Homo sapiens: one gene and its partners. The protein of the gene in region 7 purifies or fractionates together with the protein of the main gene of each other region. This does not show direct contact. Each region holds a gene or a part of one and is shown on either strand. Other genes may lie near its edges. The genes, in order: FLVCR1, ATP2B2, CANT1, PTPRS, ADCY9, FGFR1 and GINM1.

Region 1 (4,082 bases), on a different chromosome or scaffold from region 7:
GTCTGTGTCTGTGTGTATTGTTCTTATGTGATATTCAGCCTTAACAGTAATCAAGGAAATACAAATCAAAGCCAGAGTAAGATGTAATATCACACACATTCACATTGGCAAAATAATTTAAAATCTGGTGAAAACAAATTTGGCAAGGATGTGGAGCAGTAGGAACTCTGCTGGTAGTATGAACGGATAACAACTACTTTGAAGAGCAAATTGCTTATATCTAGAAAGTAGAAGGTCTACTCTAGATATATACTTAGAGAAGCTCTTATGTATAAGAACAAAAACATAATACTCATTGCAGTCTTGTTTTAAACAGTGAAAAACTAAAAAAGAAACCCTTAAGTGTCTATTGACAGGACGAGATAATTAAATTGAAGTATATTAACATAATAGAATACTGTACAACAGAAAACTAATGAACTACAACAAAAAATATCAACATGGATACATCTCAAAACCATCTCAATATAGTGTAACAAGAGCAAGTTGCAGATGGATACAAATAATATTTATATACTTACAGAATACTTCTAATTGTTTATGAATATGCATATATGGTAATATATAAAATGATAAGCACCAAGCTCAAGCTAGGGCTTGACTTTGGTAAAGAATAGGATTGGGAAAAGTCTGAAAAATGAATCTGAAGCAAAGATGGAAAAATGTTAATGTTTGCCAAATCCGGGTGATATATGAGGATATTTGTTGTATTCTCTATGCTATTTTATATTCTTAAAATATTTAATAATAGATAAATAATAAACTTAAGTTTTAGCTTAATTTAGGTTAAGAGTCTTACCTAAATTCATACAATACATGCTAGGAGACATCAGGATTCAAACCTATCCTGTGCTTCTCATAGCCAGTTGTTTTTATTGTTCACTTCTAAAGTATCCTTTGGGAGGCGAGGCAGTAGAATTGCTTGAACCCAGGAGACGGAGGTTGTAGTGAGCTGAGATTGCACCACTACTCTCCAGCCTGGGCAACAGAGCAAGGCTCCATCTCAAAAAAAAAAGTATTAACTGATTTTGTCTTATGAATTTTCAGTAAGTCTTTGATACAAAAAGGTAAGATCTCTGAAGCACAGTTTCTGTTAGGCTTTGCACATTTGTTGGCTGTAGTAGTACATTGTAGGAATTCAGTAAACAATCCATTGCTTGACTGGTTGCCATATATGTGTTGCATGTGGGGGTATGATTTATGGTCAGTATATCTCAATCTAAATAATAATAGTATTAGGACAGAGTTCTGCTATTACATCTTTAGTACAGTTAGGTGTTAAATTCATTAGTCCAGGTTCTGAAAGGGAATGACAATGGTTTTTAATTTCCTTTATCAACTGTGTTAAGAAATGTATTTCCACAATTGTCACATAATATTCCATGTCACTTCATGAACTGGTAAATGACACACTTTTAGTATTCTCTTTATTATTGTAGGTATCATGACTTAATATCATCTTTATTTATTATTGTAGGTATCATGACTGGTGCCTTTTATTCAGTCTCAACGTTATTAAATCAAATGATATTGACATATTATGAGGTAAGCTTCTGCTTATATCAGATTGCATGCCTGGCCAAAAATTTTTCTTTAGCAATATAATTGTCGTTAGCAGGGTCATGAGATTAAGGGTTATGACATTGTTGCTATCAAATATTTACATTTGTTTTAATTGAGAATATATTTGTTAAAAAATGAAATTTCCACAACTTTATATATCTAATTGGCTTTTATTATCAATTCGTTTATTGGACAGCATCCCATCTAAAGATTTAGAAAGGTACTGATGAGCTGAGCAGAGGAGATGGGCTTTATAGGCAGAAAAAGGCTGAAGAAAGCAGAAACAAGGAACAAAGAGCAGATTGGTTGCTACAAAGTTACTTTCCTTATAGGAGTAAAACAAAGGGGACTGGGCCCCATCTGATAGGTTGCTATGAATCTCCTTTTTTTTTTTTTTTTGGAAAAGTGGCCCATTTTAAAGTTCAGTTTGATTATGTGACACCTAGCACTAGTGACACCATTCTATGTGGTCTGGTCTGTTGGGCCTACTGTGGGAGCTCACTCCAAAACAATGGCCTCCCATCATTTTAATTTAACATATTTAATCCAGTTTATAAAGCACATAGTATGGCCAGGCATAGTGGCTCACGCCTGTAATCCCAGCACTTTGGAAGGCCGAGGCGGGTGGATCACCTGAGGTCGAGACCAGCCTGACCGACATGGAGAAACCCTGTCTCTACCAAAAATACAAAATTAGCTGGGCATGGTGGCGCATGCCTGTAATTCCAGCTATTCGGGAGGCTGAGGCAGGAGAAACACTTGAGCCTGGGAGGTGGAGGTGGCGGTGAGCCGAGATCGTGCCATTGTATTCCATCCTGGGCAATAAGAGTGAATCCCCATTTAAAAAAAAAACAGGCTGGGCGCCGTGGCTCACACCTGTAATCCCAGCCAAGATAGCGCCACTGTACTCCAGCCTAGTGACAGAGTGAGACTCCATCTCAAAAAAACGAAACAAAACAAAATACACACACACACAATATGGAAAGCAGAAGTTACTATCCCTGTGACAATACCTAAGTTTATTTTTAGGAAATAATATGATTGGTTATATGGAAAAAGACAAAACATTTTAAGGGAACTCAGCATAAATATAGATAAATAAATATCAAGTTTTGATTGACGTATCTGCTTTTGAAAGGATAAAGCAGTTGTACTATGTAAAAGCTATCGATTAACCTCCTTTTCAGATATCTATACAGTGTCATACCTTGCTTAGTGACAGGAATACCTTCTGAGAAATTCGCTAGGCAATTTCATTGTTGTGTGAATATCATAGAGTGTACTTACGCAAACCTGATGGTAGAGCCTGCTACATACCTAGGCTACGTGGTATAGCCTATTGCTCCTAGGCTACAAACCTGTATAACATGTTATGCTACTGAATGTTGTAGGCAGTTGTAATACAATGGTAAGTATTGTGTATCTAAATATATCTAAACAGAGAAGGTAGAATAAAAATACAGTATTATAATCTTACAGGATCATACTGTATATATGATTCAGAGTTGACCTAAATGTAATTATGGAGCACATGACTATCTATACTTAAGAATCCTAACAAAAATCATTGTACTTCTAACCATAGAGGATTAAGGAAAATTTACCTTTTTTATTTCTTCTATTATTTTAGGCTTTTTTTCTGGTTTTAAAATATAATGCTTTTATATATTCTTTACCTGCCCTCCCCTCCCACACTGACACATGTACTAAATCTTCCTACTGTGTGCTTAGTTTTATCTAATTATTTTCATTGACTATGAAAAGGTGTGGGAATGTGAAGAGTCTGAATTAGTTAATCCATTTATTTGATCAACTTCTTACGCAAATTTTTTTCAGGGAGAAGAAGTCAATGCTGGAAGGATTGGGCTAACGCTAGTAGTAGCTGGAATGGTGGGCTCTATTCTTTGTGGCTTATGGCTGGATTATACTAAAACATACAAGTAAGTGAAAGTAAATACATGTATGGTGTATAACCAAAGGTATTTTGATTTTAAAGGACAATTTGCTTTTTATTTCAAGAAATTTAAAACATGTTATTACTTAAAGATACGGATTCTAAACACTAGTAGGTTCTCTTCACTTAACAAGTGTTTCTTTTTTTTTTTTTTTTTTGAGACGGAGTCTCGTTCTGTCGCCCAGGCTAGAGTGCAGTGGCGCAATCTCGGCTCACTGCAACCTCTGTCTCCCGGCTTCACGCCATTTTCCTGCCTCAGCCTCCCGAGTAGCTGGGACTACAGGCACCCGCCACCATGTCCGGCTAATTTTTTTATATTTTTAGTAGAGACGGGGTTTCACCTTGTTAGCCAGGATGGTCTCGATCTCCTGACCTTGTGATCCACCCGCCTCGACCTCCCAAAGTGCTGGGATTACAGGCGTGAGCCACCGCGCCCAGCAACAAGTGTTTCAATACTCTATGTATTGTATTATTTTATTGGTCACATTTATTTCAATTCTGAGAACTTGGATACCTTATGAGCCCCTTCTTTCTAACAGTACTCATACCTACCACTTCCGAAGGA
Region 2 (4,082 bases), on a different chromosome or scaffold from region 7:
ACTCCAGCCTGGGCAACAAGAGTGAAACTCCATCTCAAAAAAAAAAAAAAAAAAAAAAAAGACATTGTCAAAGACTGGGCTGAGGAACAGGTGAGGTGGGTGAAGGAGTAGATTGATCACATGCCTGGGTGAGCGGGTAGGAGGAGGGAGGTAGAGGAGCGGGTGTCAGGGAGAGAAGGCCACTGGGAAGGACAGCCCCACCGTCCTGACAGACAGGGTCCCTTGCAGGTCATCGCCACCATCCCGACCAGCAGACTCAAGTTCCTCAAGGAGGCAGGCAGGCTCACACAGAAGGAGGAGATCCCGGAGGAGGAGCTCAACGAGGACGTGGAGGAGATCGACCACGCGGAGCGGGAGCTGCGGCGGGGCCAGATCCTGTGGTTCCGAGGCCTGAATCGGATCCAGACACAGGTACAGGAGGCTCTTGGGGGCTGGGCCCAGGCCTGGCCGGGGCGGGCCAGGGGATGGAGGTGAGTGTGCTTGTGCTGCCCCCCAGGGCCCAGCTCTGGTGCTGAGGGAGGGTGGCTACAGAGGGGTCCCGGCCAGCTCTCACCAGCCACTTGCACACCCACTCCTGTGGCTGCTAAGGAACAGCACGGCCTCCTCAGAGAGGTCCCATTGTGCCCTCTCAGGGCAGCACGGGGAAGTGGTAGGGGTCACACCCACCATGGTCTCCAGGGGGATTTCCCTGAGAGGGTGGGGAAGGGTGGCTCTGAGGGCAGAGGTGAGTGAGGGGACTGTCGCTCAGGGCTGGGGGCACCCACCCACAGGGGCCGTGTGAGGCTGGACAGAAGCTGCAGGCCAGGTCGCCCAGGGTCCCCCAGGGCGTGGTGGTCAGGGGGTCCGCCGCCTCCACGGGGGCTTCAGTTGCTCTCCCCAGCTTCCCCTAGGGGGTGGAGAGGCTCTGGGGAGCAAAGGTCAGTCATCCTCAAGCACACACAGACACACATGCACACACCAAGCACACCAGGGGAGCACAGGTGCAGGGCGTAGCCAGCCAGAAGCAGGTTTCTTCCCCAGAGCAGAGAGAGCATGGCTGCCACGTGGCACACGACACACCTGCGCGCCTCCCCCGACCCCCCCACACACATACCACATGCTCTCACATGGTCCCCTTATGCCTGGAGCAGGTGTTGTAGCTCACAAGTGCTGTCACAGCCCTGCGAGGGGAGGGTCAGAAGGGACTCTGTGGGTCTCTTGCCCAGACCATCTGGGGAGCTGGAGTGGGAGCTCCTCCATGCCCCAGCATGCTTGGGCGAAGTGCAGTGTAGAAGCAGCCACCTGGCCACCATCCTGCCAGCTGTGGCCCAGCACCTCATTTCCATCCGATGTAGCAGAGAGCTCACCTGGGTCACCTCCCACCCCTCTGTACCCTGTCCCAAACCTCACCTCATGTGACCTTCACAGCCCTGGGAGGTAGATGTGACTCCCCCAGTTTTAGAGGTTACCAAGGTCCAGGAGATGGCCCCTTCTACTGAGCTGGCACAGCTGGGGTGGGGACTGGAAGCCGGTTTCAGACCCGGAGGTGCCTGACACGGGCCTGGGCTCACCCTCCCTGGTTAGGGCCCCGCAGCCACCCCTCCCAGCCTGCCCCCACCTCCTGGGAGGTCCAGGACAACTCAGTGAATATGTCCCTGGTGCTGTCACTGCCCTGGCGGCAAAGCCACGCAGGGGTCTCCAGATTACGGGAGGAAGCAAGGACTGCGATTTCTTGAGTGGGCAGGGGCGCCTGTCTTGCCTGCCTCTTGCGGAATGCTAACACGGGTCAGGTGCTTTGCCACTTACAGATAACCCTGCCAGGCAGGTGGCATTGACCCTTCTTAAGAACAAGAAACTCGACTCAGAGAGGTGGCTTGCCCAAGGTCAGCTAGCTAGTAAGTGACAGAGCTGGAATTTAGGCCAAGCTCTGTCCACCTCAGGACCCCCACCACACCCTCTACCTCCACGCCTGTACCTGAGGGAGGCTGAACACTGCTCTCTTCCCTCCAGATACCATGTTTAATCACTGCCTCCCCCACTGGCCAGCCCACTGGCCCCTGAGCCACTAGCACAGGACAAAGGCCGGACCCCCTGTGTCCTCCCGGGGACCCTGGGGCCTGCAGGTGGGCCCAGAGCTGAGCAGACGTTTTTCAGAGCCTTGGAGTGTGTCTGGTATTTTTGTTTTGATTTAAGTGACATTGTCGTTGTTGCCGTGGCTGCGGCTGTTCTTGTGACGTTGCCCTGTCAGTCATGTAGCCGTTGTGCTCGTTCTTCTCGCAACTTGTCTCGTTCTCTCCTCCGTTGCAGATTGAAGTAGTCAATACTTTCAAGAGCGGGGCCTCCTTTCAGGGGGCCCTGCGGAGACAGTCCTCGGTCACCAGCCAGAGCCAGGATGTAGCCAATCTCTCTAGCCCTAGTCGCGTGTCGTTGTCCAATGCTCTTTCCTCTCCGACCAGCCTTCCTCCTGCTGCAGCCGGGCGTGAGTGTGACTCCTTACTGCCTCCGGCTGGCACTGCCCACGCCAGCTCCCAGGCGGGCAGGGGCTGGGGCACCAGAGGACATGGGGGGCAGCCGGTCACAATCAGGCCCAGGGGGATGAAGGGTCCCAGCCACCGAAGAGGGTCCCGTTGGTCAGGAGAGCGTAGCCAGTCATGCGGTGGCAGTCACTCAGTGGACCAGGGTCAGTCAGAGGGTCATTAGGGTCCCAAGTGGCCAAAAAGTCTGGTTCAGTCAAGGGGTCACCCTTGGTCAAGAGGACATCAGTGACCAAATGGTCCCAACCCACCACAGGGTCCCGGCAGCCAGAGGGGGACAGACATGGAGGGGACACAGAGTGTCCCACTGGCCTAGGGTCATATGTGGTCAGGAAAAGCCTGGACCACCAAGGCAAGGGTTGGAGTTGGACAAGAGGTCCCAGTCTTGCAGTCAAAGTCAGCAGAAGGGTCACTGTGGGTCAAGGGGAGCAAGCCCCTTAGGGTCCCAGTCAGTCACATTGGGATCCACCCAGGAGAGGGTCACGTCAACCAGACTTTCCCAGTTGGTCAGGGGGCACCCACAGTAATGAGGGTCATGGTCAAGGGGGACAGTTGAGCCAAGAGGTCACTGCAGGTCAGAGGTCATAGTCAGCCAGGGATCCCCAGGCCACCTAGGAGCTCACAGCCTAGACGCTGCACCCCAGCAGTTCAGAGTCTCTGCCCGCTTCCTGTCACTCCTCCCCTTGCACTTTTGACTGCATCAGCTGCCCTGCAGACACCTTTCCCTGTGGCTGAGCTTGGAACTTGCTGAAGTTCTAAGCCCTTCCTGGAAAGGACAAGGTCCCTGGCCCATTCAGCTTGACCCCTGGTAGAAAATGGTGGGTCGAGCCTCACATCTTGCCTGGGTGCCAGCAGGCCCAGAGGGACCTGATATGCCCTTCAGCATCCTGCCCTCCTTTATCTGAGAGATAGCCTGGGACTGTGGCCCCTCCTTCATCTCCCTCCTGCCAAGCTCATCTCCTCATGCCACCACTTCTGATCTAGATCACTCATTGCTGGCTTTGTCTAGCTCTTTCCCGGACCCATGGCTTCGGGCCCCATAGGGAACAAGTCTGTCTTTCCTCCCATCGCCCTGCTATGTTTCCAGTCAGGCGCTTCTGATCTGCAGGGGAGCCCCTGGTTCTGGTCTTCTCCAATTGGCATAGTGTCAGTCTTAGCCTCCAGCTTCTTTGATGAGAAGTAGACTCCAGCTCACCCCTTGAAACTTTATAAAGGGCCTCTACCCCCATCCAAAACCAGAACACCCACAACACAACCCCTGCAGCCAAGCAGGTAACCCGGTGTGCTGGTGGGAGCGCCTCCCTCAGTGCCTCCAGTAGGAGGCGCGGGCCACAGGGAGCCTGTTGATGGCAAATGTCCACGACCCATAGCGGCAGGACAGAAGCAGAAAGCAGGGAAGGAGCCTCTCAGTGCTCATTCGTCAGCACAGAAACGCAGTGCTGGGGAGGACCGGGGAGCCAAGATGAAATGGAGATGCATTTCAGCAGATGGTGGCTGAGTCACATTTCCATGAGATACCGTCACTAGGCAGTCACTGCCAGGATTTCTCGGGGAAGGCAACACCGGTCC
Region 3 (4,082 bases), on a different chromosome or scaffold from region 7:
GGGCTGATCACCGGGGCCTTCCCGGCAGCAGGGCTGGGGTTCCCCGTGCTGGACATCCTCCTCTGACTGCATCCAGGCCCTGCCCCTTTTCTAGTCCCAAGGCCTCAAAACCCCAGCCAGGCCCAAGAAGTCTCCACTGAGCTCGAATTACTCTATCTTACCTGCTATGCCAATCCCGCCTACATTTCTTTTTTTGTTTTTCTGAGATAGGGCCTCGCTCTGTTGCCCAGGCAACAGTGATCACGCTCACTGCAGCCTCAACCTCTGAGGCTCAAGCGATCCTCCCACCTCAGCCTCCCAAGTAGCTGGGACTACAGGCGTGTGCCACCACGCACAGCGAATTTTTTTTTTTTTTTTTTTTTTTTTTTGGAGACAGAGTTTTCCTCTTATTGCCTAGGCTGGAGTGCAATGGCACGATCTCGGCTCACTGCAACCTCCGCCTCCTGGGTTCAAGTGATTCTCCTGCCTCAGATTCCCTAGTAGCTGGGATTACAGGCATGCACCACCACGCCCGTCTAATTTTGTATTTTTAGTAGAGATGCAGTTTCTCCATGTTGGTCAGGCTGGTCTTGAACTCCTGACCTCAGGTGATCCACCTGCCTTGGCCTCCCAAAGTGCCAGGATTACAGGTGTGAGCCAACACACCTGGGGCACAGCTAATTTTTAATTTTTTTTATAGAGATGAGGCCTCGTTATATTGTCCAGGCCAGTCTTGAACTCCTGGGCTCAAGTGATCCTCCTGCCTCAGCCTCCCAAAGTGCTGGGATCACAGGTGCGAGCACCCGCACCCCCCCTTACCTGCATTTCTGACATGCGTCTTAGACATTTCAAGACACGAGTCCTGTGCAGCTTTTCCCTCAAGCCTACTTGCTCCTCGTCTCCCCTTGGGAAGGGTAGTGGTGACGGGTGGCCACCGTGTCCACAGTGGTCTGGTTCAAGCTCTCTCAGGATCCTGGGAGATGTGCTTTTCTGTGTGAATATACACTTCGATAAAAACATAAGGCACTGCCACCACGAAAAACCTGACTGGCCTCATCCTCCGTCTTCCTTCCTCAGCATTGACTCCGTGGACAGGTTCTGTCCTCTTCCATGGCCCTTCCTCACCATGCCATGCCGGCTGCCTCCCTCCACCCCTCCTGCCTCTCCGCCCCTGACACTCCCATACCCCCCGCCATGAAGTTGCCCTGCCAGCTGCCCCCCACCAACATCCCCTGACACTCCCTCGCCACCTGCCATGAAGTAGCATCCATCAGATGGCACACTCCCAGCTTCAGCGGCTTCCTCAGGTCCTGGGGTGAACCCACTCTGCTCCCGCTCAGCCCTCACACTGTACCATCTCCTCTGCCTGCCGGCTGGCTACATAGACCTCCTTCTGTCCCCTGACCACACTGGCCCTGGCAGAGCCTGCAGTTCCCCCTGCCTGGAACAGTCGGGCCTGCTCTTCGCACCAGCAGCTCGGTCTCTCCTACGGGGCATCAGCTCCCTGGGAAGACTTGCCCACTCGCCCTCCCTCCCATGCCGCTCCGGCTCTCCCACCGTCCCTGCCTGGCTAGGTGATTATTTCTGCTCCTGGGGCAGGGATCTGGCCACTGTCACAGCCCCAGCACCTGACGCACTGCCAGGCAGGGAGCAGACAGTCTGCACGCATTGGCTGAAGGGAAAGAGATGCCAGGTGAGCCATTAGCCACTTCTTCAACAGCCCCTCTGCACTCTACCGGGGGCCCCACCTTAGGCATATTATGAACCCACAACCTGGATCAAGCACCCCAAAGATCGAGCTGCTCAGCTGCCACATCTGAGCTGCAGGCCCGGGAAGACGGTGCTTGCCAGCACAGAACAACGGTGCCTGCATAGACTGCTGTCAGACATCGTGAGGTGTCGTCGTCACCAGCCCCTGGAACCCCCATGTTCTTCCCTGTTCAACTCCCTCAGCACTCCGGAGAGCCACTGTCCTCACCTTCACCATTCCTGTCAAATCTCCGGCCCACTTCTCCCAGGAGACCACTCTGTGGCCAACTTCAGCAGCCGAGGCCCCTGGGTGGGGCTCACACCTGCCACTCAGGTCAGTCCCCCCAGCCGCCGGGCACCTGCTCTTCTGGTTCCTCCCTTCCATCCACAGGCTGCCCCAAGTCGCCCACCTTGTCACCATTTTACCTCCAGACCCCACACTCCCACAGACACTCAACTGCTGCTGAATAAATGGCGAATCTGTTAATGAAGGAAAACCCTTCCCTGAGTCCCCGGCACCTCTGTCCCTTCCCACCCCCGCCCAGGCCCCCTCGCCCACCATGGTACAAGAGCACCCACACCTACACCCTCTCCTTCCCTCTGGCTAATCCTCAGAAGCAGCCACCTGAAGCCTTCACCAGTGGCAAACCCAGTGAGCACATTGTCAGTGTCCCTCCTCGAGGCAGGGGGGCACTCTCTGTGGGCCTCCTCCCAGGCAGGTCTTCTCGGCCCCCACTGCTGGCAGCCCACTGACCTCTCCCAGGGCCTGCCCTCTAAGGTGAAGACCCCCACGCCTTTCTAGCCTGACCTAGTCTCTGAGCCTCCTCATCCGATACCCACAGGCACCGCAAACCAGGTCCTCCTCAGGAACTCCCTGTCCTGGCAGTGCCGGCCCTCAGGAGCCATCCCAGGAAGCAATTCGTCCTAACCCTCCTCCCTCCCCAGCCCCACGTGTCCCACCCAGCTTGAGACTCGCTTCCCTTCTCCCCATCCACACAGCCTCGGCTCCAGTTCCATCTCACCCTGATGACTCTCAGAGTCTTGGTCTAATGATCTAGACCAAGCTTGTCCAACATGTGGTCCAACACAAATTCGTAAACTTTCTTAAAACATGATGAGATGAGATTTTTTGTTAAGCTCATCAGCTATCAATGGATTTTATGTGTGGCCCAAGACAATTCTTCTTCCAATGTGGCCCAGGGAAGCCAAAAGATTGGACACCCCTGATATAGACCATCTGGGCTCAGCCAAGGGACTTCCCTTGGCCTCAGTTTACTTCCCGGAGCCATGCTGATGGGGTTAGAGAACTGTGCACAGGGGCTGACTGCTACTGCTTCTCACTCACTCTACAAGTACCCTCTCGCCTGCTGGGAGGGTTGCAAACTACCACCCGTGGGCCAAATGCAGTCTCCCGCCTAGTGTGTAGATGCGGCCTGTGTGGCCTGGTATGTGGTTGCAGCTTGGTGTGTAGACTCTGCCTGGTGTGTAGACGCGGCCTGCGTAGACGCGGCCTGCTGTGTAGTCACGTCCTGGTGTGTAGATGTGGCTGATTAAAGCCAGCTAGGACTCCTCCCTGGCATGCTGAGTCTGGCTGCACCGTTGAGTGGTCGCAACAGACTGTGGAGGCTGAAAATACTGACTCCCTGTCCCTCGACAGATCCCTGGTCAAGACCATCTCAAATCACCCTCCACAAAACTGACAGAATAATTTTTCCAAAAAGCAAGTCTGGATTCCAAGTCTAGTAGATCCCAATGCCTTCCATCTGAAGGACAAACGTCTCAGCCTGCAGAGAAAGCCTCAGTGGGTTTTTCCCCCTGCACTCCCAGGAGCAGGACCTCTCCCAGGTCGCTGTGCAACACTGCACGCCTTCCTATTCCAGACTCCTGGCATCTACACCGTGGCACACGCTCCCCACCCGGGAGGCTCATGTCCTCTGACCACATGGAACCAGAGGTGTCTGAGTCCCGGCGTCTCTGCCCCTCTGGGGAATCAGTGTGACGGAGGCAGGGGCCTTTCCTCCAGGAGCTCAGCACAGTTGGGGAGACAGACTTTGAACAGTCCCGTGTGGTCAGTGTTACCTCGAGGTCACGCTGATTCCCCAGAGCTAACAGAGGGGCAGAGACGCCAGGGCCTCAGCCACCTTTGGTTAAACAAGGGACTGCTTCTAGTGACAAGAGAACTCTGTGTACCTTCCAGAAAATTCCTTTAACTTCAGCACCAGAACACCTTCCCTTGGGCTTCATCTCTCCTTCAGGACCCCAAGGAATTATTTTATTTTGCAAAAAAATTTCAAATCAGATGCCTTTGCCACAGCCCATGCTGGTGTATGAGCTACCACTGGCTGCCGGGGTGC
Region 4 (4,082 bases), on a different chromosome or scaffold from region 7:
CATTAGCGGCCCCCACCACGGGGGACTTTCCGCCCGCTTGGGTTAGTTCTCCTCTGTTGCAGCTGTTTGGAGAATGTGGGTTTGAGGTTCCAACCTCATCACCCCTAACGGTTCACGAAGCTGTGGGGAGAGAGGGTAGACTCATCCAGCTCCTCCTGTGCACCTTGGGCTCCTGGCCCCGTTATCAATGTGACACCACTGAATTCCCAGTGATGCAGCAGGCAAGACTCGTCCCCATTTCACAGATGAGAAAACTGAGGCTCAGGGGAAGGAAATAATGAGGTCATCTCACACAGCCAGGGAGGGTCTTTGTCAGGATCCGAACCTGGGGCGTTCAGACCCCTAATGCCCTTCCCCAGCAGGGCCGGAGTCTGGGCTCCCAGGGCCAGATGGGGCCAAGAGAAAAAGTCCTGGGACCTGGCAGCCTCTCTGCACCCTGCTGATATCTGGGAGTTGAAGCCAGCACTGTTGCCGGAAACCCCGGCAGTTCACACTCTCTAGAATTCATCCGACAGGGGCAATTACCCACTTCCAATAATCAATGGGGCAGTGGAACCAGGACAGATGTGCAGAGGGAACCCATTAGCAATCTAAGCGTTCTGGCCCCGCGAGACGTCAGGGAGCGTGTTGGGTGGACGCTCAGGGACAAAGGCACCATCTGCCTGATTTCTCTCGCTGTCTTGGGTCTTCAGCATAAGTCAGGGCTTCTTTTTTTAAAAAAAAAAAAAAAAAAAAAAGAGAAGGCCTTGCTCTGTTGCCCAGGCTGGAGTGGAGTGATGCAATCATAGCTCACTGCAGCCTCAAACTCTTAGGCTCAAGCAATCCTCCCACCTCAGCCTCCCCAGTAGCTGGGACCGTACGTGTGCACCCCAACCCTCGGCTGATTTTTTTTTGTTTTTTGTAGAGATGAGGTCTCACTGTGTTGCCCAGTCTGATCTTGAACTCCTAGGCTCAAGCAATCCTCCCGCTTTAACCTCCCAAAGTGTTGGGATTATGGACGTGAGCCACCATGCCTGGCAAAATCAGGGTTTCTAAACCTCAGCACAGTGTACATGAGGGTGGGGTCATTATCTGGGATGGGGTCATCCTGGCCATTACACAGAGTTGAGCAGCATCTCTGGCTTCCACCTACTCCATACCAGCAGCACCCCCCTGGACATGACACCCAAAAATGTCCCCAGACGTTGCCAAGTGTGCCCAGGGGAGCAAAAGTGACCCCGGCTGAGAACCACAGCAGTACACTCAACGAGTAATACTGGTAACCCGGGTGCTCCAGCCCCAAGAGCAAACGACTGCGCTACAGAAAGAACGAGGGATGGAGAAGCAGGTCCTGCCGCCAGTAGATAATTCGCAGCCCTGCCCCGCGGGACAGCCGGCTTCCTTCTACGCAGTATTTAATTTAAGTCAAGTTTATCATTATGACCAATATTAATATAATCAGAGCCAACGTTTATCGAGCGCGGACGCTGGCCCAGGCCCTGTTCTCAGCACTCTCTGTAAGCTATCACACTGGTGCCTCTAAAGAACCGCAGAGGTGGCTGGGAGTCTTAAACCCATTTCACAGGCCTGGAAACTGAGGCCCGCGGACGGCAATGGAGGTGTCAGAAGTCACGCAACTTTTAATTGTTGGGGAAGGGGTCAAAGTCCACGGTGGCCCTGGATTTCTGTACTGTGCCATGTTAAGATGTTTCAACCCAAGGATGTTAAAATAGGGCAATTTTTTTTTTTTTTTAGACAGAGTCTCACTCTATCGCCCAGGCTGGAGTGCAAGTGGCATGATCTCAGCTCACTGCAACCTCCGCCTCCCAGGTTCAAGCGATTCTCCTGTCTCAGCCTCCCAAGTAGCTGCGATTACAGGTATGCACCACCATGCCCAGATTATTTTTGTATTTTTAGTAGAGGCGGGGTTTCACCATGTTGGCCAGGCTGGTCTCAAACTTCTGACCTTAGGTGATCTGCCTGCCTTGGTCTCCCAAAGTGCTGGGATTACAGGCGTGAGCCATCATGCCCAGCCAAAATTGGGCAATTTTACTTAAAATCTAGATTTCTGCTTTTCCTTGGAAAAACCAACAGATCTGGCCCTGGAGCCATTCAGGGCTTCCTTGGAGGTTGAAGAAGCCTTTTTGGCCCATACGACCCGCTGGAGTGGAGACTCCAGCCCTGACAGGCGTTATGGCTTGAGAATCACACACCCGCCATGGCTTCCTGCCTCGGTTTCTCCCTTTGGACTGGTGAAAGGGGTCCCTGTCCATCCTCCTGCGCAAGGCCCAGCAGCAGGCAGGCAGGCATGGCTGTGTGGTCTTGGGCAAGTTGCTCTCCCTCTCTGGGCCTTGGCCTGACAGATGTTCCAAGAAGCATTCCCAACATTCCAGGTTTTCTGTTGATCCTGATGTTGGCAGCCCAGCTCTGGGGGCTTTCAGAGAACTCTGACCGCACATCTAAAAAATGCAATTTGTTAGACGCGGTGGCTCACGCCTGTAATCCCGGCACTTTGGGAGGCCAAGGCAGGCGGATCACTTGATGTCAGGAGTTTGAGACCAGCCTGGCCAATGGGGTAAAACCCCATCTCTACCAAAAATACAGAAATTAGCCAGATGTGGTGGCGGGTGCCTGTAATCCCAGCTACTCGGGAGGCTGAGGCAGGAGAACCACTTGAACCCGGGAGGCGGAGATTGCAGTGAGCTGAGATCACGCCGTTGCACTCCAGCCTGGCGACAGAGCAAGACTGTCTCAAATAAATAAAATAAAATAAAAAATAAATAAAAAATGCCAATTCGCCAGGTGTGGTGGCTCACACCTGGAATCCCAGCATTTTCCGAGGCCAAGGCAGGCAGATAGCTTGAACCCAGGAGTTTGAGACCAGCCTGAGCAATATGGTGAAACCCATCTCTACAAAAAAAAAATAAATAAATAATAATAATAATAATAATAATAATACAAAAGTCAGCTGGGCGTGCTGGTGGATGCCTATAGTCCCCAGCTACTTGGGAGGCTGAGGTGGGAGGATTGCTTGAGCCCAGGAGTTAAGACACTGCAGTGAGCCATTATGGCATCACTGCACTCCAGCCTGAGCAACAGTGTGAGTCCTGTCACACACACACACACACACACACAATGCGATTCGAACTCCTTGGGGTGGGGGGTCCTGTGTGGTCTTCCCCAGCTAAAGTCAACTCTTCTCTTCTTGTTTCCGCCCCCCTCACCTCCAGCCACAAAGCAGCAGGTGCCACTCTCAGTCTCTGTCCTTGGTGCCCCCCACACCAGTTCATCTGTCTCCACTTATGATAGAGGCAATGTCAAAGCACCCATTTTACAGATCAGGAAACTGAGGCACAGAACAGCTTTATTACTAGCCCAAGCCCCACAGCTGCTTAGATTCTGGCTTCCAAGTTCCTTAGCAGCAGGTTTCCAGCAATCCTGATGGAATGAATGAATTAATGAACTGGTGAATATTCGAATGAATGCATGCATGCTCGCTCGCACACCATGCTTGTCAACCGATCACTTTCCTGAGTGCCCATCAAATGACTGCTGTTAAACCCCCAAATCCCCCCCAAACTCCCCCCTTTGGTGATCACTCGGGCCCACCAGGGGCTCTGGAAGTTGGGAGCCACATGTGGAGTCCCTGGAGTGCCTGGAGCTCCCAAGGCAGCCACGTGTCCTCCCTGTCCACCATCCAGGCCCCCTGTGGTTCAGCTCCCGCCAGTCGCCCAGTCCTGCCGCAGAAGTGGGGCGGCCTTGATTAAGCAGCCAGTGAAGGGGAACGCCCCAGTTTGCAGTGGCTGAGTCATCCTGACATCTCCCTGGTGCTGGACCCCATCGGGGGGCTGAGGGCGGGGTAGCGGGGCGCGGGTGGACACTGGAGAGCCCCTCTTGGGCAGGTCCTTCAACATATCAGTGTAGCTCCCATGTTGTCAAAAATAATAACAAAAACAGAATAGAGGTGGCAGCTACATTCTAGGTGCCGTTCTGAATCTGTGCTTACACACGTTAACTCATTTCTTCCTCCTAACAATCCCTCAAGGTGGGCACTGTTACTCTTCTCCATAGACAGATGAGGAAGACGGAAGCACAGAGAGGTT
Region 5 (4,082 bases), on a different chromosome or scaffold from region 7:
GGACGCGGATGTCTGGGGAGATGGACAGCTGGTGCTGTGGGATGACCCTGTGATCCGTGCACTTTGGGTACAGGTAGGTCTTCATCTGGCCTTTCCCCTTGACATTCACGGTCCCTCTGTAGTCGAAGTCATAGCCCATCTTGCTCAAGACGCGGTAGCTCTCTTCGCTCACCTGGATGCGGCACTCCACGCCGGTGGTGTCCATCCTGCTGGCGATGTTGACGGTGTCTCCCCAGATGTCGTACAGCAGCTTGGTGGTGCCGATGACCCCGGCCGTGAGGGGCCCATGGTTGAAGCCGACGCGGAGCTTGAAGTTGAACCACAGCATGTTGTTGTTGAAGTCGTCCACCACGCGCATCATCTCCTTGGCGAACTCGAACAGGATCTGCAGGTGCTCCTGCGGGTGGCTGCCGTCCTGGGCCTGCGCGGTGTTCAGCCCTGACGCCGCCATGTACGTGGCTCCGATGGTCTTGATCTTCTCGATGCTGCTGTAGTCCGGCTTGCTTAGGAGCTCGTCAAAGTCCCCGATGAGCTCGTTGAGGACCCGGTAGCACTCCTTGCCGCCCTCGTAGTTCTCCTCGTAGAACTCGCTGAAGTTGACGATGCTGGCGAAGATCACCCCTCCGCTGTCATGGTTCTTGGAGTAGGTCTGGGACACCTTCAGCTGCTCAGCCACGTGGTAGGGGATGATGTTCCTCAGCAGCCAGTCTGCCTGGTCCCGCATGCTCTGGATCTTGGTGCGGTGAAGATCCGCTTCCACGTCTCCGTGGTAGTGGAGGCGGTAGCTGACTTCAAATTCGCGATTCAGGAACCAGACCAACAAGAGCAGGAGAAAGAAGACGAGAACCACCTCCTGGCCGATGAGGCTGGCGGGCCGCCGGAGGTCACGCGGCACCGAACTATTGCACGGGTTCCTCTCGGAACTGGAGAGCAAAGACACGGGAAAGGGAGAGGTTACTGCTCGGCGCTTCCAAGCTCAGAACAGCCCCGCTAGCTACGCAAAGCTTTGTTGAGTCCAGGCCTTCAACAACCTGAAGCTGTCAAGCTGCCCATTCCTGGTTTGGGCTGGCTGAAGGTATGGAGGGATAAAGACTAACTTTTGAAACTGATTGATTTCATTTTGTTAAATAGAGGTGGGGTCTCACTGTGTTGCCCAGGCTGGTCTTGCACTCCTGGGCTCAAGCAATTTTCCTGCCTTGGCCTCCCAAAGTGCTGGAATTACAGGCGTGAGCTGCTGTGCCCAGCCCTGTAACTAACATCTTTAGTAAGTGCTTGGTAATCGTTTTTCTTTTCTTTTTCTTTTTCTTTTTTTTTAGAAGTCTTTAGCTTCTTTCAAAAATCTTTTCTTTTCTCTCTCTCCTTTGTTTTTTTAGAGACATGGTTGTTGTCCAGGCTGGAGTGCAATGGCACAATCATGGCTCACTGCAGCCTTAAACTCCTGGGCTCAAACGATCCTCCTGCCCAGCCTCCTAAGTAGCTGGGATTACACGCATGTACCACCACACCTAGCTAATTAAAAAATTTTTTTTTTGAAGAGACAGGGTCTTGCTGGTTGCCAAGGCTGGTCTTAAACTCGTAACTTCAAGCCATCCTCCCACCTTGGCCTTCCAAAGTGCTGGGATTACAGGCTTGAACTGTGCTTGGCCTAACATCTTTTTTTTTTTTTTTTTTTAAGATTGAGTCTTGCTCTGTTGCCCAGGCTAGAGTGCAGTGGTGCGATCTTGGCTCACTGCACCCTCTGCTTCCTGAGTTCAAGTGATCCTCCTGCCTCAGCCTCCTGAATAGCTGGGACTATAGGTGTGTGCCACCATGCCTGGCTAATTTTTGTATTTTTAGTAGAGACAGGGTTTCATCATGTTGGCCAGGCTGGTCTCAAACTCCTGATCTCAAAGTGATCAGCTTGCCTTAAAGTGCTGGGATTACAGGTGTGAGCCACTGCACCCGGCTTTTTGCTGAATGAACTTTTTGAAAGTAAGTTGCTGACATGGCACTTCAGCTCTAAATATTTCAGCATGTATCTCCTAAGAATAAGGATATTTCCCTATGTAACTACAATATCATCATCATACCCAAGAAATTTAACATTCTCTGATATATTTGGTTCTTAGATTTCTTTTTTTTTGAGACGGAGTTTTGCTCTTGTTGCTGGTGAGATCTTGGCTCACTACAACCTCCGCCTCCCGGGTTCAAGTGATTCTCCTGCCTCAGCCTCCCCAGTAGCTGGGTTCACAGACATGTGCCACCACACCCAGCTAATTTTGTATTTTTAGTAGAGACGGGGTTTCTCCATGTTGGTCAGGCTTGTCTCAAACTCCCGACCTCAGGTGATCCGCCCACCTCAGCCTCCCAAAGTGCTGGGATTACAGGTGTGAGCCACCGCGCCTGGCCTTGGTTCTTAGATTTCTAATCCAATAAACTTATCATTTTACAAATAGCTTTTATGAGTTCTATACTCTCTACCTGTATAAAAAAGTTTGACAAGACGCCATCTCCCCTGATTCTGGGTTAGTTCTTTTTGCCGAAATCACTCAGGACAATGCTAACATCTGAACCAGTGCCATTATTTTCTCATGGCTGTGCAGTGTTCCAGCACTCGGAAATTCTGTAATTTAGCCAGATTCCCCCTGATGGAACTGGGCCCGAGTCTGTCTTTTCTTACCACAAACAGTGTCACAGGGAATATTCCCCTACCCCTATCTTTGTGCGTATGGAAGTGCTGAGTCATTTTAAATATTGCACATTTAGAATTTCCTTAGAAATTTCCAAATTGCCCTTCTAAACAAGGCTGAACCAGTTTCTGCTTTTTTTTTTCTTTTTTTTGAGAAGGAGTCTCGCTTTGTTGCCCAGGTTAAAGTGCAGTGGCGTGATCTCGCCTCACCACAAACTCCGCCTCCTGGGTTCAAGCAATTCTCCTGCTTCAGCCTTCTGTGTAGCTCGGACTACAGGTGCACGCCACCATGCCCAGATTATTTTTGTACTTTTACTAGAGACAGGTTGGTCTCAAACTCGTGACCTCGTGATCCACCCGCCTCGGCCTCCCAAAGTGCTGGGATCACAGGCGTGAGCCACCGCGCCCAGTCTCTGCTCCCTTTGATAACTGAGCCTGCTTTCAGCGGGGCTGTCTCCACTTCAGTGGCACTGATGGAGACAGCCATGGTCAGGGGGCTGCAGATGAGTGGTGAGTAGCACAATTTCTTTTTTTCTTTTTCTTTTTTCTTTTTTGAGACAGAGTCTCACTCTCTAGCCCGGGCTGGCATGCAGTGGTGTGATCTCAGCTCACTGCAACCTCCACCTCCTGGGCTCAACGATTCTTGCGGCCCAGCCTCCTGAGTAGTGTGCGCCACCAGGCCCAGCTAATTTTTGTATTTTTTTTTTGGTAGAAACGGGGTTTCACCATGTTGGCTGGGCTGGTCTCAAACTCCTGACCTAAAGTGATCTGCCCGCCTCGACCTCCCAAAGTGCTGGGATTACAGGTGTGAGCCACCACACCTGGCTGAGTAGCACAATTTCTTAAAGTTTGTTTGAAATATATATATATATATATATATATATATATATATATATATGTATTTTTTTTTTTTTTTAAGAAGAGACAGGGTCTGTCTCTGTCATCCAAGCTGGACTGCAGTGGTGCGATCCTAGCTCACTGCAGCTTTGACCTCCCAGGCTAAAGCGATCCTCCCGCCTCAGCCTCCAGATTAGCTGGGACTACAGGCACACACCACCACACCTGGCTAATTTTTTGAACTTTTTGTAGAGATGAGGTCTTACTATGTTGCCCAGGCTGGTCTCAAACTCCTGGGTTCAAACTGTTCTGCTTCTGCCTCCCCAGTGTGCTGGAATACATTTTTTCCCATTTAAAAATACTACATACTCATCATAGAAAATGTAGAAAAAAATAGACAAAAAAGATTTGTCCATCGTCCTGCCATCCAGAGGCAATCACTATTAACATTTGTTGAACTGCATTCTAGTCTTTTTCTTTTTTACAACACCGTGACTGTTCTGTTCATGTAAATGCTGTACCCTGATGCATTCCTCCCGCGCACAGAGTAGGCCAGTTGATTTGATGCAATAATGGG
Region 6 (4,082 bases), on a different chromosome or scaffold from region 7:
GATCACGTCATTTCACTCTAGCCTGGGTGACAGAGTGAGACTCTGTCTCCAAAAAACAACAGAAAAAGTCCTATAATTTAATGAACTATTTTGTGATATTAGGTATTTTCTGGTTTTTCACCATAATAAATAATGTTGCAGTGAATCTCTGTCAGCATTTTTTTAAGCGTGCTTCCTTAGGACAGATTGTTACAAGTGAAATTACTAACTTAAAGGGTGTAAGCATTTTTTTTTTTTTTTTAGACGGAGTCTCACTCTGTCACCCAGGCTGGAGTGCAGTGGTGCCATCTTGGCTCACTGCAAGCTCCACCTCCCAGGTTCATGCCATTCTCCTGCCTCAGCCTCCCGAGTACCTGGGATGTGCAGCCACCATTCCCAGCTAATTTTTGTATTTTTAGTAGAGACGGGGTTTCCCCATGTTGGCCAGGCTGGTCTTGAACTCATGACCTCAAGTGATCTGTCCGCCTGGGCCTCCCAAAGAGCTGGGATTACAGGCTTGAGCCACCGCACCCAGCCAGAAATATTTTAAATTAATTCACCATGCACTCACTACATGCAAGACACCATGCTTTAAATGCTGCAAGATAGCGTTCCTGCCCATAAAAATTTTGCAGTCTGATAGGAGGCAAATGTCCATGAGCAGCTACCGTAAAAAGTAGACTGTGATCAGTGCTTTGGTAGGCAGAGAGGAAAGGGTGAGCACAGTTCTGACCAGAGACTGGACTGGAGGAGATGGTTTTTGAAATGAGCTGTCAAGGACAGTGGGGGCTGGATTCTTAGTGTAATAGGAGAGGTGCACAGTTGGGAACATTCTTGGTGTATTTGGGAGTGTTTGCAGAAGGCACATCTGTCCGGATCACGAATGATCTTGAACGTCACAGTGGAGACTTCTGGAGTCTTTACACCCCATCTGCCAGCTTGCAGAGTGTGAACGGGCTGGTAGGGGGGCAATCCACGCCTTGTCCTAGCCAACCCTGCAGCCTGGGGCCCTGTGCCACCAGGCTCTGATATGGAGGGCAGGTGCCACGGGGTGCCGACATTGTCATGGGGCCTGCATTTTCCTCTGGACCCTCAATGTATCCCTTTGGCATTTCCCCTCAGGTCCGTTATGCCACCTGGAGCATCATAATGGACTCTGTGGTGCCCTCTGACAAGGGCAACTACACCTGCATTGTGGAGAATGAGTACGGCAGCATCAACCACACATACCAGCTGGATGTCGTGGGTAAGAGGGCAGAGGCAGCAGGAGGAATGAGTTTAGTGGGAAGAGCCAGGCTTGGAGAACACAGCCGGGGTGTCCAGGTTTCTTAGGGGCAGAGTCAGGATAGCGATTGGCACTTCTTGGCTTTGTCACCTTGAGCAGGTCACTTCTCCCTTTTGAGCCTCACTTTTCTTATCTGTAAAATAGAGTTAAGATCAGACAGTAACACGGTCAAAGCTGGTTGTCACTGTGAAATTGAAGGTGCTGTTCAGAGTCTGTCCTGAAGGAGGCGTTGTTGGAGAGGTGTTAAATGTAGCGTAATAGGAGCTGTCGCTTAATGCTAGCAAGATGCCAGGCTCCTTAAATACCTGCCCTGTAATGCTCATGGCACACCTGCAAGGTGGGCAGTATTAGTCTAGCCCTGCACAGGAGCACAGGCGCATAGGCTCAGAGAGGTCAGACACCTTGCTAATGCAGAACTGCACACCTGTGCCAACTTCAGGGCATCACAGGAGACTCTGGGAAGAACATTGAGCCTCTTGGAGCTATTACCGCAACCTTTTCCTTCTAGGAGTTCTGAAACTCACTCCCTAGAGATCATTGGGTACAGAATCTCTCAGCCAGTGTTCTTCTTGATTATGATGATATGGTCTAAGAAGGAGATTGTGGCCAGGAGCAGTGGCTTATGAGCTCCAGGTGGCATGATGGGATTACTCACGCCTGTGATCCCATCACTTTAGGAGGCCAAGGCTGGAGGATTGCTTGAGGCCAGGAGTGTGAGACCAGCCTGGGCAACACAGTGAGACCCTGTCTCTATAAAAAAATTTAAAAATTAGCCTAGTGCAGTGTCATGTACTTGTAGTACCAGCTGAGTTAACTGAGGCTACTGAGGTGGGAAGATCACTTGAGCCCAGGAATTCGAAGCTGCAGTGAGCTATGATGACACCCTTGTGCTCCAGCATGGGTGACAGAGTGAGACCCTGCCTTTAAAAAAAAAAAAGGTAAAAAGGAGATTCTGATCCAAGAGGTTGGGGTAAGATCTGAGATTCCGCGTTTCTAACAAGCTCCTAGGGGATGCTGGTAGCACTGCTCGTGGACCACACTTTGAATAGCAGGAGTCAAAGTGACTCTGGTTTTTTAAGGAGGAGCAGGTTGTGCTGAGGTCTGGGGGTGCAACTGAATTAGAAGGTTCTCCATTAAAGCATGAGCGACTTACTGTGACTGTAAATATGATGACTGCCTTGGGGAGGAGGATCCTGATGGCTTAGGGCCTGAAGAGAGGGTGTCCCTTTCCCCAGCTCTGTTTTGAGAGGCTTGGGCTCAGCAGAAGTGCTGGGAGGTTTACAACCCATCACTGGGAAAGCCAAGTGGGGCGCAGGTGAGCCCACCCCTCTTTAGCCATGGCAAGGTCCCCATGACAAGTGCCTCCTCTCCCATCTTCCACAGAGCGGTCCCCTCACCGGCCCATCCTGCAAGCAGGGTTGCCCGCCAACAAAACAGTGGCCCTGGGTAGCAACGTGGAGTTCATGTGTAAGGTGTACAGTGACCCGCAGCCGCACATCCAGTGGCTAAAGCACATCGAGGTGAATGGGAGCAAGATTGGCCCAGACAACCTGCCTTATGTCCAGATCTTGAAGGTAATCATGGCACCAGTCTTCGTGGGCCAGTCTACTGGGAAGGAGACCACTGTCTCGGGGGCTCAAGTTCCTGTGGGCAGGCTCAGTTGCCCCCGAATGGGATCATTCCTCACGCTTCAGGCACACACACTCCATCTCAGTAGGGATCTAGCCACATCCCCCAGGACTAGTAACAGAGGTCACAAAGTGGAGGTGAGCTGGGAACAGAGGGCTGCAGGGATGGGTGGTGCTGGTCTGTAATAAGCTTTGAGAGCAACGTCACTGGGGCTTTGGGGTCAGCTACACAAGGAAGGCATTTGGACCCCTGCCTTTTCATTGCCCGAAACCAGAGCCTTTCCACCAAGCGTTTCCCAGTCTTAGCCCTGTGTCCTGAGTTACGTACGATCTTTCTGGCAAATGGGGTGCATGATAAGAGCATCTCTTACGAAGAGTTGGAAAAACAAATGCCATATATAAATTCTAAGCCATATGAGGACGAGGAGTAATGGCATTTTCTTCCTTTTTCCTCTCACTCCCAGACATTCATTGTCCCTGAATGCTCCATTAATCCAGGGAAGGTAATTGCCTAAATCTCCAGTGGATCTCGCAACAGGAAGGAACCAGAAGCTGGGAAAGTTGTTTACCTCTTTGTCCCAGAGTTAGACCTCATCCTCCCCTAGCTTAGCTGTCTCAGAGATATACTGGCCCTCCCTTCTCTTCTCTTTGCTGCTGGTGCTAAAACTGCTCTGTAGGTCATTGGCCACTGTCTCCACTCACAACCCCTGCTCCAGTCCTGGAGGGAGTGGGTTAAACACAAATAGAACATTCCATTTGAAGCAGTGATTCTTTTTTTTTTTTTTTTTTTTTAATCAAATGCTTTGGACTTTTGAAGTCCACTTGTTCTGTACTTGTAAAAGGGAAAGAAGGCCGGGCGCAGTGGCTCACGCCTGTAATCCCAGCACTTTAGATCACTTGAGGTCAGGAGTTTGAGACCAGCCCGGCCAACATGGTGAAACCCCATCTCTACTAAAAATACAAAAATTAGCTGTGCATAGTGGTTGGCACCTGTAGTCCCAGCTACTCAGGAGGCTGAGGCAAGCTAACTGCTTGAACCCAGAAGGCAGAGGTTGCAGTGAGCTGAGATCACGCCACTGCACTCCAGCCTGGGTGACAGAGTGAGTGAGACTCTGCGTTAAAAAAAAAAAAAAAAAAAAAAACTAAAAGGGAAAGGTAATAAATCTCACTTAACATCTCCCTTCGCTCCC
Region 7 (4,513 bases):
AGGCTGAGGCAGGAGAATCGCTGGAACCCGGGAGGCAGAGGCTGCAGTGAGCCGAGATTGCACCACTGCACTGTGCAGGATGGGGGACAGAGCGAGACTTCACGTCAAAAAAAAAAAAAAAAAGTGACCGGGCGCAGTGGCTCACACCTGTAATCCCAGCACTTTGGAAGGCTGAGGCGGGTGGATCACTTGAGGTCAGGAGTTCGAGACCAACCTAGCCAACATGGTGAAACCCCATCTCTACTAAAAATATAAAAAAATTAGCTGGGCGCAGTGGCGGGAGCCTGTAATCCCAGCTACTTGGGAAGCTGAGGCAGGAGAATCACTTGAACCTGAACCCAGGAGGCAGAAGTTGCAGTGAGCCGAGATCATGCCAGTGCACTCCAGCCTGGGAGACAGAGTGAGACTCTCTCTCAAAAATAAAAAACAAAAAATAAAAAAATAAAAATAAAAATACAAAAACTAGCCAGGTGTGGTGGCACGCGCCAGTAGTACCAGCTACTCAGGAGGCTGAGATAGGAGAATCACTTGAACCTGGGAGGCAGAGGCTGCAGTGAGCCGAGATCATGCCACTGCACTCCAGCCTGTGTGAGACAGAGCGAGATATTCCGTCTCAAAAAAAAAAAGACTTTTATTTTTCAATCTTATGTGCAATCTTGTATTACCTCAACTTCTGACAACTGCATACATAAAAACAGAAAAATGCTTATAGTCCAATAAATCTGAGTCATCGGAAGAAGGCAGAATTTTCCTGACTTCAACCAGTTTAATTTATATCAGACTGGAAACGAGGATGGACAGATGTGATAAAGCTAGTAATGTTAAGGGTAGTCTGGTTCTGCACTGTTCAATATGGTACACACTAATCACTTGTGACTATTTACATTTACATTGATTAAAATTAAATAAAAATTTAAAAACAGTTCCTCACTGGCACTGGCCACATTTCAAGTGCTCAGTGGCCACAGCAGTCTAGTGGCTACCCACAAGGTGAGAAAAGACATAACCATCAAGGCAGAAAGTTCTACTGGACAGCACTTACACAATATGTGGGACCACTGTGAAATTCTTTCCTATTGGAAATGTTTCACAATAAGACGTTGAGAAGACTTAGATCAAGGGACTTCAGTTTCCCACAGACACAGTCCAGGTAATGAGATTCTCTTTCTAGTTGTTCAGCACTCATTTAATCTGTGAAACTTTTTGTTGTTGAGACAGGCTCTTGCTATGTTAACCAGGCTTATCATCCAACACCCAACTCTTGGTCTCAGGCAATCCTCTGGCTTTGGATTCCCAGTAGCTGGGATTACAGGCGTGAGCCACTGCACCCAGCGTAATATGTGAATTTCCGAGTTTAGATCTGGACTTTCTGAAAGTGAAATGAAGGCCCAAGAAGGGAGAACTGAAATAGTAAAATCATCACTAAGAGCCAGCCGACAATGCAGTGTATTTTAAGCCTGCAGTCAAAATGTATTTTTCGCAGATTATATAGACGTAAACATCTCATTGACACATAGGTGTCAATTATGAATCTTTAAAACTTGAAAAATAGGAAAATAATGTCCGTATTTCCAGAACTTTTTAGAACTATTTCACTTTTATTTGGTCCCTTGGTGCCTGTCCATCACATTCCTATTGTTTAACCAGATGCAACTGTGGTCCACATATAATTTCAGATATAGGTGGTTCTTATGGCAGGCAATGTCGTGGCTTCTTGGAATGCCCTGCAGAACTGAGACATGCTCATCATTTTTGTACCCACGTGGGGTAATGTCATTATCCTAAAACGTTAACACTTGGTTTTTTTGTTTTTGTTTGTTTGTTTTGTTTTGAGCTCCCTCACCCAGGCTGGAATGCAGTGGCACGATCTCGGCTCACTGCAACCTCTGCCTCCCGGGTTCAAGCAATTCTCCTGTCTCCGCCTCCCGAGTAGCTGGGACTACAGGCACCTGCAACCACGCCCAGCTAATTTTTCTATTTTTAGTAGAGACGGGGTTTCACCTTGTTGGTCAAAGTGACACTTACCGTGCCCTTCGCCTTTGTATTTAGAGTGTTCATATTCAAGTCTTGACTAGGAAGAGGTGTACCGACATAGTTTCTTGTCATTCTCAGAACACTTGCTCTTTAAAATATTCAAACTTTTCCCTACCATTCTACTGAAAAAAGGCTGATACTGGCCTAGGTAGGCACGACTCTACGGCAGGAATGGTGAGCATCAGCCACGTTTTAATGTTAGGATGCCTCGATTCTCCCACCTCAGCTGGCATCAGAAGCACCTGCAGGACTCTCCAACCCGGACTGCTGGGCCCCGCCCCCAGAGGCCGGGCTGAGTCCCCAGGGGATGCGGACACCGCCGATCGCGCCCCGCCGTGAGAACTTCTCCTCCAACATCCGACAAAAACATTACGTCGCGCGAGGGCCAGGTCTCTCCCTCTGCCCACCTGAGCCCGGCGGAGCCCCGCAGCCTCGGAACGGCGGACCCTCGCGATCGCAGGCCGAGCAGGCACAAGTGGCCTGGAAATGCGCGAAGTGGGCAACTTCCACACTTCCCGAGCACACAAACATTCCTTGCCCAAGCGCTGGCTCTACCCCGGGAAGGCGCCATTACGAAGGCCTGATCACCGGCAACCGCGCGCTTCGACGGCAAAGCCCCGTCAGGTCGCGCGCCGGCTTGGGCCGCCGGAGAGTCGGTGTGGAGTGGCTCGAGGCTCACTCACAGCGACGCAGCCCCAGTGGGTCCCTTTCCTCTTACCTCGGCCTCCCACGCCGCCCCCATTTCCTGGGGTGCTTCTCCCCACACCTCCTTCGGGGGCCCGGACCCCCGCCCCTGCCCGCCGGTGGGATGTGGGAAGCGTCACTGTGGACAGCCCGGGCCTCCCGGAGAGTCGGAGTCGTAAAGCGGCCAGCCAGGCCCGCCCTGCCCTACCTGTGGGGCTCCGGACAGCGGCGGCGGCTCGGGGGCGCCCGTCGTCAGCCAGCCGGAGGCGGGTAGCGCCACGAACAGCAGGAGCCGGAGGGCGAGCGACCCCGGTGGAGCGCCCTCCATCTTGGACAACCCGGGCAGAGGGCAGCCGCGGCCGGGAGGTGAGGGCGGAGCCGGCCCGCGGGCGGGACGGAGCTTCGGCGGGAGGGACGGGGAGGGGCGGGGAGAGACGGGGAGGGGCGGGACGGGCCCTCCCCTCCCCGGGCGGCCGCGGAGAGGCGCGGGGACGCTCCGAGATCCGGCTCGCCAGGGAAAGGCGTTTGCGCACGCGCAGCGCCGCGCGGCGTCGAGGGGCGGAGTGAAATCTTGGAAGGTACGGCCCCTCATTAGACCCGCCCTCAGGATTGGACAGGACTCCAACTGGAGCGATGTAAATGTCCTCGTAACCATTATTTTTAAAATTAGTATTTACACACATGCATGTGTCTGTGTGTGCACATGTACATGTACCTATACGATGAAAACAACGGTAATATTTCAGAAAACTGTTATACATTAAAAATGAAACATCGCATTTACAGGGGAAGTTTTTATTAAGTGGGTAATTCCCCACCCTTGGCTGCACGTGGGACTCTCCCGGGCAGCTTTAAAAAGTACTGGGGTCTTCCTGAACACCCCACTTTCCAGCCTGGGCTGCGGCTCGGGCCCTGGTGGTTTTTTAATTTTCTCGGGTGATTCATTGTGGGGCCAAGGTTGAGGATGCGCCATGCTTACTGTTCAGCATTCTGCCGACCCCTGGAGGCGGCGCGGGGACAGCGCTCAGCTGGAAGGAAGCCAGCGCACCTGGGCTGTCAGTGCCTTTTTGGTCAGTATCGTAACTCTAAAGTGAAAGTGTTAGACTTTTCTTCCACCTTGCAGATTTAAAAAAAAAAAAAAGTTACGGAACCCTGTAAAGCAGAGTAGCAAGAAATTCAAGCATTTTAGATTAACAGGATTGCATGTTGATTGAGAAAAACTTGGAAACTTGGCCATTCAGGCAGAATAAGAGTAATATTTAGTCTTCCTTTGAAATAAAACTTTTGACATGAAATAAAACTTTTGACATGAAAAAGGAAACAAGAATCTATTTCTCTCTTTGAGCCCCCTTTACTCCTTTGAACACCCTCCTCCCACAGGCCTGCTGACCGCCACCGCCCCCTCCCCCGGCCCCGCCCCAGAATAAATTATAAACGTTTTGGCTAAAGACTCCTTTCAACTAACTCCGGGCTTACTCTGAGATTCCCCACGCCATTGTTAAGCTACAAGTGATTTCACAGCGAAGCCCCACACACTTCTGGGTTCCATCTGCAAACTTGGCCTTTTCCTTTTTTTCCTACTGCTGGAATTAAAAATGAATTTGGAGATGGGCGTGGTCATTTGTGCCTGTACTCCCAGCTATGCAGCAAACGCAGGCAGGAGGATCGCCTGAGTCTATTAAAAAAAAAAAAAAAAAAAGGAATCTAGAAGCCGGGTGCAGTGGCTCACGCCTGTAATCCCAACACTTTAGGAGGCCGAGGCGGGTGGATCACTTGAGGTCAGGAGTTCGAGAAT

What was found.
Region 1: the proteins of GINM1 (region 7) and FLVCR1 purify together in Homo sapiens (affinity purification with mass spectrometry; 3 studies listed by BioGRID and IntAct, with this or other methods). This does not show direct contact.
Region 2: the proteins of GINM1 (region 7) and ATP2B2 purify together in Homo sapiens (affinity purification with mass spectrometry; 3 studies listed by BioGRID and IntAct, with this or other methods). This does not show direct contact.
Region 3: the proteins of GINM1 (region 7) and CANT1 purify together in Homo sapiens (affinity purification with mass spectrometry; 3 studies listed by BioGRID and IntAct, with this or other methods). This does not show direct contact.
Region 4: the proteins of GINM1 (region 7) and PTPRS purify together in Homo sapiens (affinity purification with mass spectrometry; 3 studies listed by BioGRID and IntAct, with this or other methods). This does not show direct contact.
Region 5: the proteins of GINM1 (region 7) and ADCY9 purify together in Homo sapiens (affinity purification with mass spectrometry; 3 studies listed by BioGRID and IntAct, with this or other methods). This does not show direct contact.
Region 6: the proteins of GINM1 (region 7) and FGFR1 purify together in Homo sapiens (affinity purification with mass spectrometry; 3 studies listed by BioGRID and IntAct, with this or other methods). This does not show direct contact.

The regions. Positions count from the first base shown.
Region 1 is NC_000001.11:212,881,894-212,885,975, forward strand, and holds part of FLVCR1 (choline/ethanolamine transporter FLVCR1), read left to right. Parts: intron 1-1,477; coding exon 1,478-1,545; intron 1,546-3,399; coding exon 3,400-3,503; intron 3,504-4,082.
Region 2 is NC_000003.12:10,334,505-10,338,586, reverse strand, and holds part of ATP2B2 (plasma membrane calcium-transporting ATPase 2), read left to right. Parts: intron 1-228; coding exon 229-411; intron 412-2,286; coding exon of another isoform or gene 2,287-2,458; intron 2,459-4,082. UniProt on the Homo sapiens protein: ATP-driven Ca(2+) ion pump involved in the maintenance of basal intracellular Ca(2+) levels in specialized cells of cerebellar circuit and vestibular and cochlear systems.
Region 3 is NC_000017.11:78,999,302-79,003,383, forward strand, and holds part of CANT1 (soluble calcium-activated nucleotidase 1), read right to left. Parts: intron 1-4,082.
Region 4 is NC_000019.10:5,330,414-5,334,495, forward strand, and holds part of PTPRS (receptor-type tyrosine-protein phosphatase S isoform 1 precursor), read right to left. Parts: intron 1-4,082. UniProt on the Homo sapiens protein: Cell surface receptor that binds to glycosaminoglycans, including chondroitin sulfate proteoglycans and heparan sulfate proteoglycan.
Region 5 is NC_000016.10:3,966,044-3,970,125, forward strand, and holds part of ADCY9 (adenylate cyclase type 9), read right to left. Parts: intron 924-4,082; coding exon 1-923. UniProt on the Homo sapiens protein: Adenylyl cyclase that catalyzes the formation of the signaling molecule cAMP in response to activation of G protein-coupled receptors.
Region 6 is NC_000008.11:38,423,265-38,427,346, reverse strand, and holds part of FGFR1 (fibroblast growth factor receptor 1 isoform 1 precursor), read left to right. Parts: intron 1-1,101; coding exon 1,102-1,225; intron 1,226-2,647; coding exon 2,648-2,838; intron 2,839-4,082. UniProt on the Homo sapiens protein: Tyrosine-protein kinase that acts as a cell-surface receptor for fibroblast growth factors and plays an essential role in the regulation of embryonic development, cell proliferation, differentiation and migration.
Region 7 is NC_000006.12:149,564,948-149,569,460, reverse strand, and holds the start of GINM1 (glycoprotein integral membrane protein 1 precursor), read right to left. Parts: upstream 3,087-4,513; 5' UTR 3,047-3,086; coding exon 2,927-3,046; intron 1-2,926.